2 separate regions of the Homo sapiens genome follow, and region 2 is linked to region 1. Evidence: fine-mapped expression QTL. A gene starts in region 1. The other region holds a variant in brackets. All regions are shown on one strand. Distances are from middle to middle.

Region 1 (5,374 bases):
TGGCAGGTGCCTGTAATCCCAGCTACTCGGGAGGCTGAGGTACAAGAATCACTAGAACCTGGGAGGCGGAGGTTGCAGTGAGCAGAGATAACGCCACTGCACTCCAGCCTGGGCGACAGAGTGAGACTAGGTCAAAAACAAAACTAAACAAAACAAAAAAAACACCAGAGAGTCTCAAGAAGAGAAGTTATTGTGTTTGAGATAGGCCAAGAATACAAGATCAGTCTCATGGGTCTTCCAGTCTCCAGAAAGGGCTGACCCCACAAGGAAAACACATACAGCTATCTGTACAAGGAGGGAAGAATCCACAGAGACGCAGGAGAGCCATCGATCTAGAACAAAGTCATAGCTTTTGATATTAGGGAAGCAGAACAGAAGGAGCCACTCAGATTGTAGCTGCAAGATTTTTATAGCCTGTGTTCTGCTCTGGGCTTGCGTAATAGCCAGGAAGGTGGGAGGGCTCAAAAGGTCAGGCTGGAGTTCCACGCAGTTCCAAGAAGCTAGGCTGCTCTCTAGCCTCTAGATGAGAGCCAGGTGGGGGAGGCACCATAAGTCTTCAGGCTACCCTTAGCCAGCACTGATGTTCTCAGCTCATGGGACTAAAGGATTAGGGAGACATCCAGGAGGCTGCTTCTGTCCAAGGTCTCATCCCTCCCTGTTCTCTAGGAATTTGAGCCTCCAGCCCGACACTGTCTCAAGGCCTGGGTGTGCCTCTGCAATATGCCCAACCCACCATGTGGACTGTCCACCAAGAAACACACAAGGAAGGCTTGCCGAAAGCACACTTCTACTGGAGTTGCACACACAGACTAATATACTTTCCTGTCCTCACAGATAAGAGCAGACCTAATTATGTCCTGGCTCAATTTACCCCTCCTCCAATCAGGCTGCCCAGGGCTGGCTAGAGCCCAGCCTGAGAAAAATGAAGGGAATGACCCCAACAATGGATTCCCACACTTACTAACATTTCTTTCTGTTTTTCCAAACCATTCCCTTTCCATTTACTATCTGGAGATGAGGGTTGCCCTGGTGAGCTCTGGGGAAGGACACAGGAGAAAGGAGAGAGGTGAAAATTCAAAGCAAGGCTGAGAAAGATATGACACCCTAAGCTCCACTGGGTACCCCTACCCCAGAATTGAGTAGTCCACTTCTGTGCGCAAGGTTCAGTTGTCGCTCTAAGTGGCAGGGAGGGCGTAAGGAACAGCAGCCAGGTACCCTCTGAAGCCCTGGGAGGACCACTCACTGGGGAAACCCCGGAATGGCTGAGAGGCTGGGAACCCAGCCTTGCAGGGTTTCAAACAAACACCAATGAGAAAGAAAAAAGACGGGGGAATACTTGGTTGTTCCTCATCTCTACATATTAGGATCCACCCCAGCAAGACTCCTTTCTTCCAAAGCAGATGACCCACCAAGTCCCCAGGTTCCTCCCGTCTGCCATCCCTACACCTCCCCTCTTTTCTGGAATCAAGCTCAGTGTGACGACGTCTCCCCTTCATCCAACGTCAGCTGAGTTTGCCCTCAACCCAGTTTGAGAAGCAAACCCATCCTTCCCCGATTATCAGACTAAGGCAGACTCCGCAGGCTCTCAGACCCCGGAGACCCCCAACAGGAAGACGCGCTGGGTGAGGGGTGGGAGGGAGGGGCAGGGGAGGGGCGTGTGGGGGAGGAACGGAAACGACGGCCTTTGTTTATCGCTCAGGGACCCAGCTGATCCCATCTAGGGGATCGCTAGCCGGGCACCCGCCCTTCTGCCCGGACGGAGGCCTCCGTCGCCCGCCGCTGGCCCAGGCATGGTTTGACGGCACTCTGAGACCAGGTGGGCTCGGACCCCAACCTCCCCGTCTCCCGCAACCCCCGCTTCTCCTCGCCGGGGCCCCGCACTCACAATACACTCGCGGATCCTCTCGTGGAATAGCTGTTCTCGCACGGATAGCACTTCGTAGTCAGGTGCTTCCATACTCTGCTCAGCATGACTGAAGCCGAGGTGCCTCTGGGCCCGGGGAGGACGAGCGGGGAGGAAGCCGCCGCCGCCAAGCACCCAGACCCAGCCTAGGGGCCTTTCCTCGCAGCCTGCGACAGAAACTCGGGGCAGTCTGGGGCTCAGATACAGTCGTCCGGACGCCCCGCCCTTAAAGGGGCAGGCACCACCCGCCTCGTTTTAAAGGGCTCTGTCCTCCCTTTGCTCCCCACTCTTTAAGGTCGGGTCGCGCTCACGTTTCAATGCAAACACCCGCCACTAGGCTCGCTACGAGGAAGCGCCGCTGAGGGTCCATCTTTTTAAGAGATCTAGTGACGACACAAGGGATGGGCGGGTTCCTTCCAGGGGGAGGAACTCATTGGCTCCTGGAGAGCTGTCGTTCATCGCTGGAGGAGCGCTGATAGGCTCGCCCTGTGGAGGAAGGCGGGATCTTTTGGGCCTACCGCTGCCCATACTAATAGAGCAACTGTCTCTCTTATCTGGGAAAAGTGAAGGTTCCTGGATTTTAGTAGCAGCCAACATTTTAGTATGACCTTGGTTAAATGAACCGTTTGAAGCAGGCCAGCCAGGCAGGATGTGAGGGCACCCTAGGGGTTCTGAAATGTACCGCTGCCCAGTAACCGATGTTCTGTAGTAGCATTTTCTGTGTGTTTGTGTTGGGGTGCCCCTCCCCACATCCCCACCCCGCTTTCCCGCTGCCAGGAGTTTTCATTCAATCATTTTTGTGGAAGACCTAGTGTGTGCTAGAACAAATACTGAAAAATACTGGAGAGAGGACTACAGAAATACCTTGCAACTTTGTGAAGAAATGCCCACAAGGATCACTGAAGAGTGGGGCTGAGTCAAACATTAGCTAACCACTTACTATGTGCCATTCACTTTATAGTCGTTATCTCAGCCATGTTACCCAGGCTGATCTCGGACTCCTAGTCTCAAAGTGATGGGCCTCCCAAAGTACTGGGATTACAAGGCGTGACCCACCCAGCCTATTATCTCATTTTTAACGTCACAACAACACTTCAGAGGAAGATGTTGTGATTCAGCTTTTATTTCTTTATTTATTTTTGAGACGGAGTTTCGCTCTTATTGCCCAGGCTGCAGTGCAATGGTGTGATTTCGGCTCACTGCAACCTCCGCCTCCCGGGTTCAAGCGATTCTCCTTCCTCAGCCTCCCAAGTAACTGGGATTACAGGCATGCGCCACCGCGCCCAGCTAATTTTGTATTTTTAGTAAAGACGTGGTTTCTCCATGTTGGTCAGGCTCATCTTGAACTCCCAACCTTAGTTGATCCGCCCGCCTCGGCTTCCCAAAGTGCTGGGATTACAGGCGTGAGCCACCACGTCCGGCCAAGATTTTGTGTGTGTGTGTGTGTGTGTGTGTGTGTGTGTGTGTGTGTGTGTGTGTGTGTGTGTGTGTCTTGGAAGTAGACAGGATTTAGACGAAGGGAGATTTTCTTTTAAGTTATTTATTTTTGAGACAGTCTCACTCTGTCGCCCAGGCTGGTGTGCAGTGGTGCGATCACGACTCACTGTAGCCTCCAACTCCAAGGCTCAAGTGATCTTCCCATCTCAGTCTCTTGAGCAGCTGGGATCACAGGCAGGCACCAGCACACTTAGCTGATTCTGCCATGTTGCTCAGTCTGGTCTTGAACTCCTGGGCCCAAGCTGTCGGCCTGCCTTGACCTCCCAAAGTGCAGGGATTACAGGCGTGAGCCAACAGACCCGACCTCCTCTAAATTCTTAAAGCAACATCCAGCTGCATAGTTCAGTGAGCAGTTAAAAATTGGCCATTAGCCGCGCGCGGTGGCTCACGCCTGCAATCCCAGTACTTTGGGAGGCTGAAGCGGGCGGATCAAGAGGTCAGGAGATCGAGACCATCCTGCCTAACACGGTGAAACCCCATCTCTACTTAAAACATAAAAAATTAGCCGGGCGTGGTGGCAGGTGCCTGTAGTCCCAGCTACTCGGGAGGCTGAGGGAGGAGAATGGCGTGAACCCGGGAGGCGGAGCTTGCAGTGAGCCGAGATCGCGCCACTGCACTCCAGCCTGGGTGACAGAGCGAGACTCCATCTCAAAAAAAAAAAAAAAAGAAAAGAAAAAGAAATTGGCCATAAGACCGGGCGCGGTGACTCATGCCTGTAATCCTAGCACTTTGGGAGGCCGAGACGGGTGGATTACCTGAAGTCAGGTGCTGAGAGCAGCTCGGTCGGGGAGACCCTAACCCAGCGGCACTAGAGGAATTAAAGACACACAGAAATATAGAGATGTGAAGTGGGAAATCAGGGGTCTCACAGCCTTCAGAGCTGAGAGCCAGGAACAGAGATTTACCCAACAGCAAGCCAGTCATTAGCATTGTTTCTATAGATATTAGATTAACTGAAAGTATCCCTTATGGGAAACAAAGGGATGGGCAGAGATAAAGGGATGGGTTGGGCTAGTTATCTGCAGCAGGAGCATGTCCTTAAGGCACAGATCGCTCATGCTATTGTTTGTGGTTTAAGAACGCCTTTAAGCGGTTTTCCGCCCTGGGTGGGCCAGGTGTTCCTTGCCCTCATTCCAGTAAACCCACAACCTTCCAGCGGGGCATTATGGCCATCATGAATATGTCACAGTGCTGCAGAGATTTTGTTTATGGCCAGTTTTGGGGCCAGTTTATGGCCAGATTTTGGGGGGGGCTTGTTTCCAACAGTCAGGAGTTCAGGACCACCCTGGCCAACAGGGTGAAACCCTGTCTCTACTAAAAAATACAAAAATTAGCTGGGCATGGTGGTGGGTACTGTAATCCCAGCTACTTGGGAGGCTGAGGCAGGAGAAACACTTGAACCTGGGAGTTGGAGGTTGCAGTGAGCTGAGATCACACCATTGCGCTACAGCCTGGGCAACAAGAGCGAAACTCCGTCTCTAAAAAAAAAATTGTCCATATATGCATTGTTTCATAATATTTGTCCTCTTGAGCTGTTATTTAAATATTTTGTATTGTTTAACTTTACCTTCATTTATGTCTTTCCTCTTTTCCTCCTGTCTTCTCCTCTTCAAGAATTAGAAACTCATATTTGGCTTTTTTTTTTTTTTTTTTTTTTTTTGAGATGGAGTTTCACTCTTGTTGCCCAGGCAGGAGTGCAATGGTGCGATCTTGGCTTACCGCAACCTCCACCTCCCGGGTTCAAGCGATTCTCTTGCCTCAGCCTCCAGAGTACCTGGGATTACAGGCACTCCCCCATGACTGGCTAGTTTTGTATTTTTAGTAGAGACGGGGTTTCTCCTTGTTGGTCAGGCTGGTCTCCAACTCCTGAACTCAGGTGATCCGCCCGCCTCAGCCTCCCAAAGTGCTGGGATTACAGGCATGAGCCACCGTGCCAGGCTCATATTTGGCTTCTAATTCACCCCCTTCTTTTCT
Region 2 (5,374 bases), 110 kb after region 1:
CTGGGATTACAGGCACCCACCATCATGCCTGGCTAATTTTTTGTATTTTAATAGACATGGGGTTTCACCATGCTTGCCAGGCTGGTCTTGAACTCCCAACCTCAGGTGATTCGCCCACCTTGGCCTCCTAAAGTGCTAGGATTACAGGTGTCAGCCAATGCACCTGGCCTCTACAATCTTTTACGTTGGTGTAGATCCCACATACCTCCCATGGCCATGCAGATAGTGTCAGCTTCTGCAGTCTCATATTCCTCCCTGACAACAATAATTTGTTTTCTCCATAGAAACTTGAGCAATAAGGATTTTGCCAGGATGCAGTCCAGGGACCATGTGGGACTCAAAGCTTAGGTCTTCCAGATAAGCTGGTTGATGCCAGTTAGTTTGTAGAGTAGGGGGAGGGGCAAGCATGGTAATTGGTAGAATATAAAATATAATAATACTGTGCGTCTAGAGTATGGCCTTAGGTCTTTAATTACCTTCTTCTCTCCTTTATTTTTGTCTTGCACTCTGCTAGACATCTTGTTGCCTCAACTGCCAACAGGCCAGTACAGTAATTTATGTTTGTTTATTTGAGGCACATGCATTCAAAAACAGAAAACTACATAAAAGAGGATTTTTGGTTTTTTTGAGACAGGGTCTCGCTCTGTCACTCAGGCTGGAGTGCAGTGATGTAGTCATAGCTCACTGTAACCTCAGACTCCTGGGCTCAAGTGATCCTCCAGTGTCAGCCTCCAGAGTATCTAGGATTGCAGGCGTGTGCCACCATACTTGGTTAATTTTTTTTATTTTTATTTTTTGTAGAGATGGGATTTCACTATATTGCCCAGGCTGACCTCAAACTCCTGGTCTCAAGCCATCCTCCTGCCTCACATTTTGCTTTCTAATGCTCATTCCTGGTGTCTTTATGAAGTGAGAGAGACAATCCTCTTGATTCCTCACCTGGGCTCCAGGAGGCAGGTGAAGACATGGGGGCAATGGTGAAATGCACCTCAAAAATTGGGAAGTAAAATTGTCCTAATAAACATTTAAAAATTATTATTATTGGCTAGACACGGTGGCTTACGCCTGTAATCCCAGCACTTTGGGAGGCCGAGACAGGCGGATCACGAGGTCAGGAGATCAAGACCATCCTGGTTAACATGGTGAAACCCCGTCTCTACTAAAAATACAAAAAATTAGCCGGGAGTGGTGGCAGGCACCTGTAGTCCCAGCTATTTGGGAGGCTGAGGCAGGAGAATGGCATGAACCCAGGAGTCGGAGCTTGCAGTGAGCTGAGATGGTGCCACTGCACTCTAGCCTGGGCGACAGAGCGGGACTCCGTCTCAAAAAATAAATAAATAAAAATAAAAATAATTATTATTATCTGTACAAATACACCTCTTTTTCCTCAACCAAAGAGTTTCTGATTCTCTTAGGCATCTAAAAGAGATTTATATGCAACCTATTAAATCAGCAAAAATTAATTGTTAAGCATCCACTCAGTGTTTGATGACATGTAAGCAATGTGGGAGATAATAATACTAACTAATGTTTATTGAGTTCTTAGAATTTGCTAGCTGTCTGTTGGGCTCTGTACATGAGTTGCCTCATTAAGGCCTATGGCCACTCCTATGAGATAGGTCTTCTTCTTTTTTTTTTTTTTTTGGACAGGGTCTGGCTGTATCGTCCAGGCTGGAGTGCAGTGGCACGATCTAGGCTCACTGCAACCTCTGCCTCCTGGGCTCAAGACATCCTCCCACCTCAGCCTCCCAAGTAGCTAGGAACACAGGCATGCAACACCACGCCTAGCTAATTGTTGTATTTTTTTGTAGAGATAGGTTTTCACCATGTTGCCCAGGCTGGTCTCAAACTCATGAGCTCAAGTGATCTACCCACCTCGGCCTCCCAAAGCATAGGGGTTACAGGCGTAAGCCACTGCATTCGGCCTATGAGATAGATACTTTTATTATCTCCATTTTAAATATTAGGAACTGGCCAGGGAAGGTGGCTCACACCTGTAATCCTAGCACTTTGGAGGCCGAGGTGGGTGGATCATGAGGTCAGGAATTCGAGACCAGCCTGGCCAACACAATGAAACCTTGTCTACTAAAAATACAAAAATTAGCTTGGCGTGGTGGCAGGTGCCTGTAATCCCAGCTACTCGGGAGGCTGAGGCAGGAGAATCGCTTGAACCCGGGAGGCGGAGGTTGCAGTGAGCCGTGATTGCACCACCGCATTCCATCCTGGGCAACAGAGCAAGACTCTGTCTCAAAAAAAAAAAAAAAAAAAAAAAAAAAAAAAGAAAAGAAGAGAAGAAGAAAAAAAAATTAGGAACTAAGACATAGAGAAGTTAAGCCATTTGCCCAGTGCCATACAGCTAGCAAGTAGGAGAGCCAGGATTTGAGCATAGTCTGATTCCAGAACGTATGATCTTAAAGAAGTAGAAATTGGCCGGGCGCGGTGGCTCACGCCTGTAATCCCAGCACTTTGGGAGGCCGAGGCGGGTGGATCACCTGAGGTTGGGAGTTTGTGACCAGCCTGACCAACATGGAGAAACCCTGTCGCTACTAAAAATACAAAATTAGCTGGGCGTGGTGGCACATGCCTGTAATCCTAGCTACTCGAGAGGCTGGGGCAGGAGAATTGCTTGAACCCTGGAGGCGGAGGTTGTGGTGAGCCGAGATCGTGCCATTGCACTCCAGCCTGGGCAACAAGAGCGAAACTCCATCTCAAAAAAAAAAAAAAAAGAAGTATAAATTATGGTTCCCGCACTCAACAAATTTATAATCTAGTTGAGGGAAACGTGACTAACACACATGAAAGCAACAGTAGATTATGTAAGATGAGCATATATAATTAAGTGCTAAATTGAATGCTTCAGAAGTTCAGAGGGCACAAGAAGGCGTGGAACAGGCAAGCAGCCTTTCATGAGGAATAACCTTGAAGTTGAGCCTTAAATGGTCCCTGAGATGAGCGTAGGGAATGCACTGCTGCAGGTGAGGTGGTGGCAAAAGCGTTACAAGCAGGAGTGAGCAAGACTTTGTCCTGGAGGATGGAGCAGCCAGCCTGACCACAGCTGGGTGGAGCCAATGGGAAGGGCTGGACCAACTAGGAAGGCCTTTAAAGCAAGGCAGAGTTTAGGCTTGGTGCATTAGTAACCAGAGAGTCGTAAAAGGCCCTCCATCAATAAAGCAATATTATAACAGATGTTTAAGGAAGACACGTTTGGCAGGA[G/A]GATCTATCTTTCTTATTAAAATTGTAGATGACAGCCAGGCGTGGTGGCTTACGCCTGTAATCCCAGCACTTTGGGAGGCCATGGCGGGCAGATCACGAGGTCAGGAGTTCGAGACCAGCCTGGCCAACATGGTGAAACCTCGTCTCTACTAAAAATACAAAAATTAGCCAGGTGTGGTGGCATGCGCCTTTAGTCCCAGCTACTTGGGAGGCTGAGGCAGGAGAATTGCTGGAACCCGGGAGGCAAAGGTTGCACTGAGCCGAGATCACACCACTGCACTCCAGCCCAGATGACAGAGCAAGAATCCGTCTCAAAAAAAAAAAAAACAAAAAAAAACTGTAGATGGCACAAAGCTTGAAAAAACATGAAATGACTAAATTGGTATCTCAAATTCACTGCTTATTTTGTTTGATCTTTAGGCTTTATTTCACATTAGCAAGTTCTGCCAAATCTTCCTCCTTAATATTTTTCCAATTTGTTTATTTCTCTACATTTCCCTTGCCATTACTTCAGTTCAGCCACAATCCTAGGGGTGAGGGGAGGTGTCAGAGAAACCTTCCTGGAAAAGATGACATTTTTCCAGAGTCCTGAATATTTAGCAAGAATTAGCCAGGTACCAAGGGAAGGGCTTGAAGGGGGAATGGAAGTGAGGAGATGGGAAAAAGAAGAGGGGAAGGATCAAATAATGGGCAGAAGAAAGCAAAAGCAAACAAACAAAATAAAATATAGACTTTGATGCTATAATAAGGAAAATTAAATGTGGCATTAACTTAGTGAAAAGGGTCACTGGTGGGTGGTGCAGGCCCAAAGAATCCAGACTAGAACACTGATGACGCCTTGCTGTGTGGTATCAAAACATTTGGTTGAAATGTCACTTCTTGTACCCTGGAGGGCAGACCACTCCCAGTGAAATGGAAAGGAAAGGCCCTTGAAGAGGTGACATGCAGTCAGGGCCCTGAACACACAGGTTGAATGGAAGGAACCATGTTGGCAAAGGCACAGAGTCTGGTGGTGCAGGGAGGAGAATCCTGACTTCCAGGGTTGAGCTCTGGGCAGATTAAACTGTTGATGGGGGTGCAGAGAGCAGGGAAATGGACCCAAGTAGGGAGAACTAAGTTAGGGAGAGGGCCCAGCTGAAGACTGCTCACCTACTTTAGAGAAATGTTGGCAAATGGGGAAGTGAATTTTTTATTTTTATTTTTGAGACAGTGTCGTTCGTTCTGTTGACCAGGCTGGAGTGTAGTGGCACAATCTCAGCTCATTGCAGCTTCGACTTCCCAGGCTCAAGCCATCCTCCCACCTCAGCCTCTGAGTAGCTGCGTGTACAGGTGTGCACCACCCTGCCTGGTTAATTTTTGTATTTTTTGTAGAGATGGGGTTTCACCACATTGTCCAAGCTAGTCTTGAACTCCTGAGCTTAAGTGAGCCACTTGCCTCTACCTCCCAAAATGCTGGGATTACAGGTGTGAGCCACTGTGCCTGGCCAAAATTTTTAATTCTCTTTCAAAATCCAGTAAGAAATAGCACTAGATTTTTAAATAGCTTTGTTGAGGTAAAAATCACATACTATAGCGATTCACCTATTGAAAGTACACAATTCGCCGGGTGCGGTGGCTCATGCCTGTAATCCCAGCACTTTGGGAGGCCGAGGCACGTGGAGCACGAGGTCAGGAGATCAAGACCATCCTGGCTAACACGGTGAAACCCCGTCTCTACTAAAAAGTACAAAAAATTAGCCAGGCGTGGTGGCAGATGCCTGTAGTCCCAGCTACTCGGGAGGCTGAGGCAGGAGAATGGTGTGTGTGAACCCGGGAGGTGGAGCTTGCAGTGAGCTGAGATCGCGCCACTGCACTCCAGCCTGGGCGACAGAGCAAGACTCCCTCTCAAAAAAAAAAAAAAAGAAAGAAAGAAAGTACACAATTCAACTATTTTTAGTATATTCAGAGAGTTTCACAGACATCATCAAAATCAATTTCACCACTCCCAAAAGAAATCCTGTATCCATTTCTATCCCTTCCTCCTAGCTCCTGGTAATTACTAATCTACTTCTGTCACTAAGGACTTGCCTGTTTTGGACATTTTATATAAATGGAATCATACAATATGTGATCTTTTGTGACTGGCTTCTTTAATAAATGCTAGATTTTGCAAGTCCATAAT

Evidence for each region. PIP is the estimated chance that this variant, and not a neighbour inherited with it, causes the effect.
Region 2: its variant is the best candidate, but not a certain one, in a credible set for the expression of LMBR1L in whole blood (TOPMed, PIP 0.58).

Annotation. Positions count from the first base shown.
Region 1 is chr12:49,108,599-49,113,972 of GRCh38, forward strand. LMBR1L (limb development membrane protein 1 like) reads right to left here and starts at 2,249. Exons shown (of 17, transcript NM_018113.4): 1 at 1,886-2,249. The coding sequence starts at 1,957. RefSeq lists an enhancer at 1,418-1,957 and a silencer at 2,815-2,995.
Region 2 is chr12:49,216,783-49,222,156 of GRCh38, forward strand. No RefSeq gene overlaps it. Among named protein-coding and RNA genes, the nearest start is that of TUBA1A, 30 kb to the left of the region's middle. The variant G/A (reference allele first, on the strand shown) is at 3,214.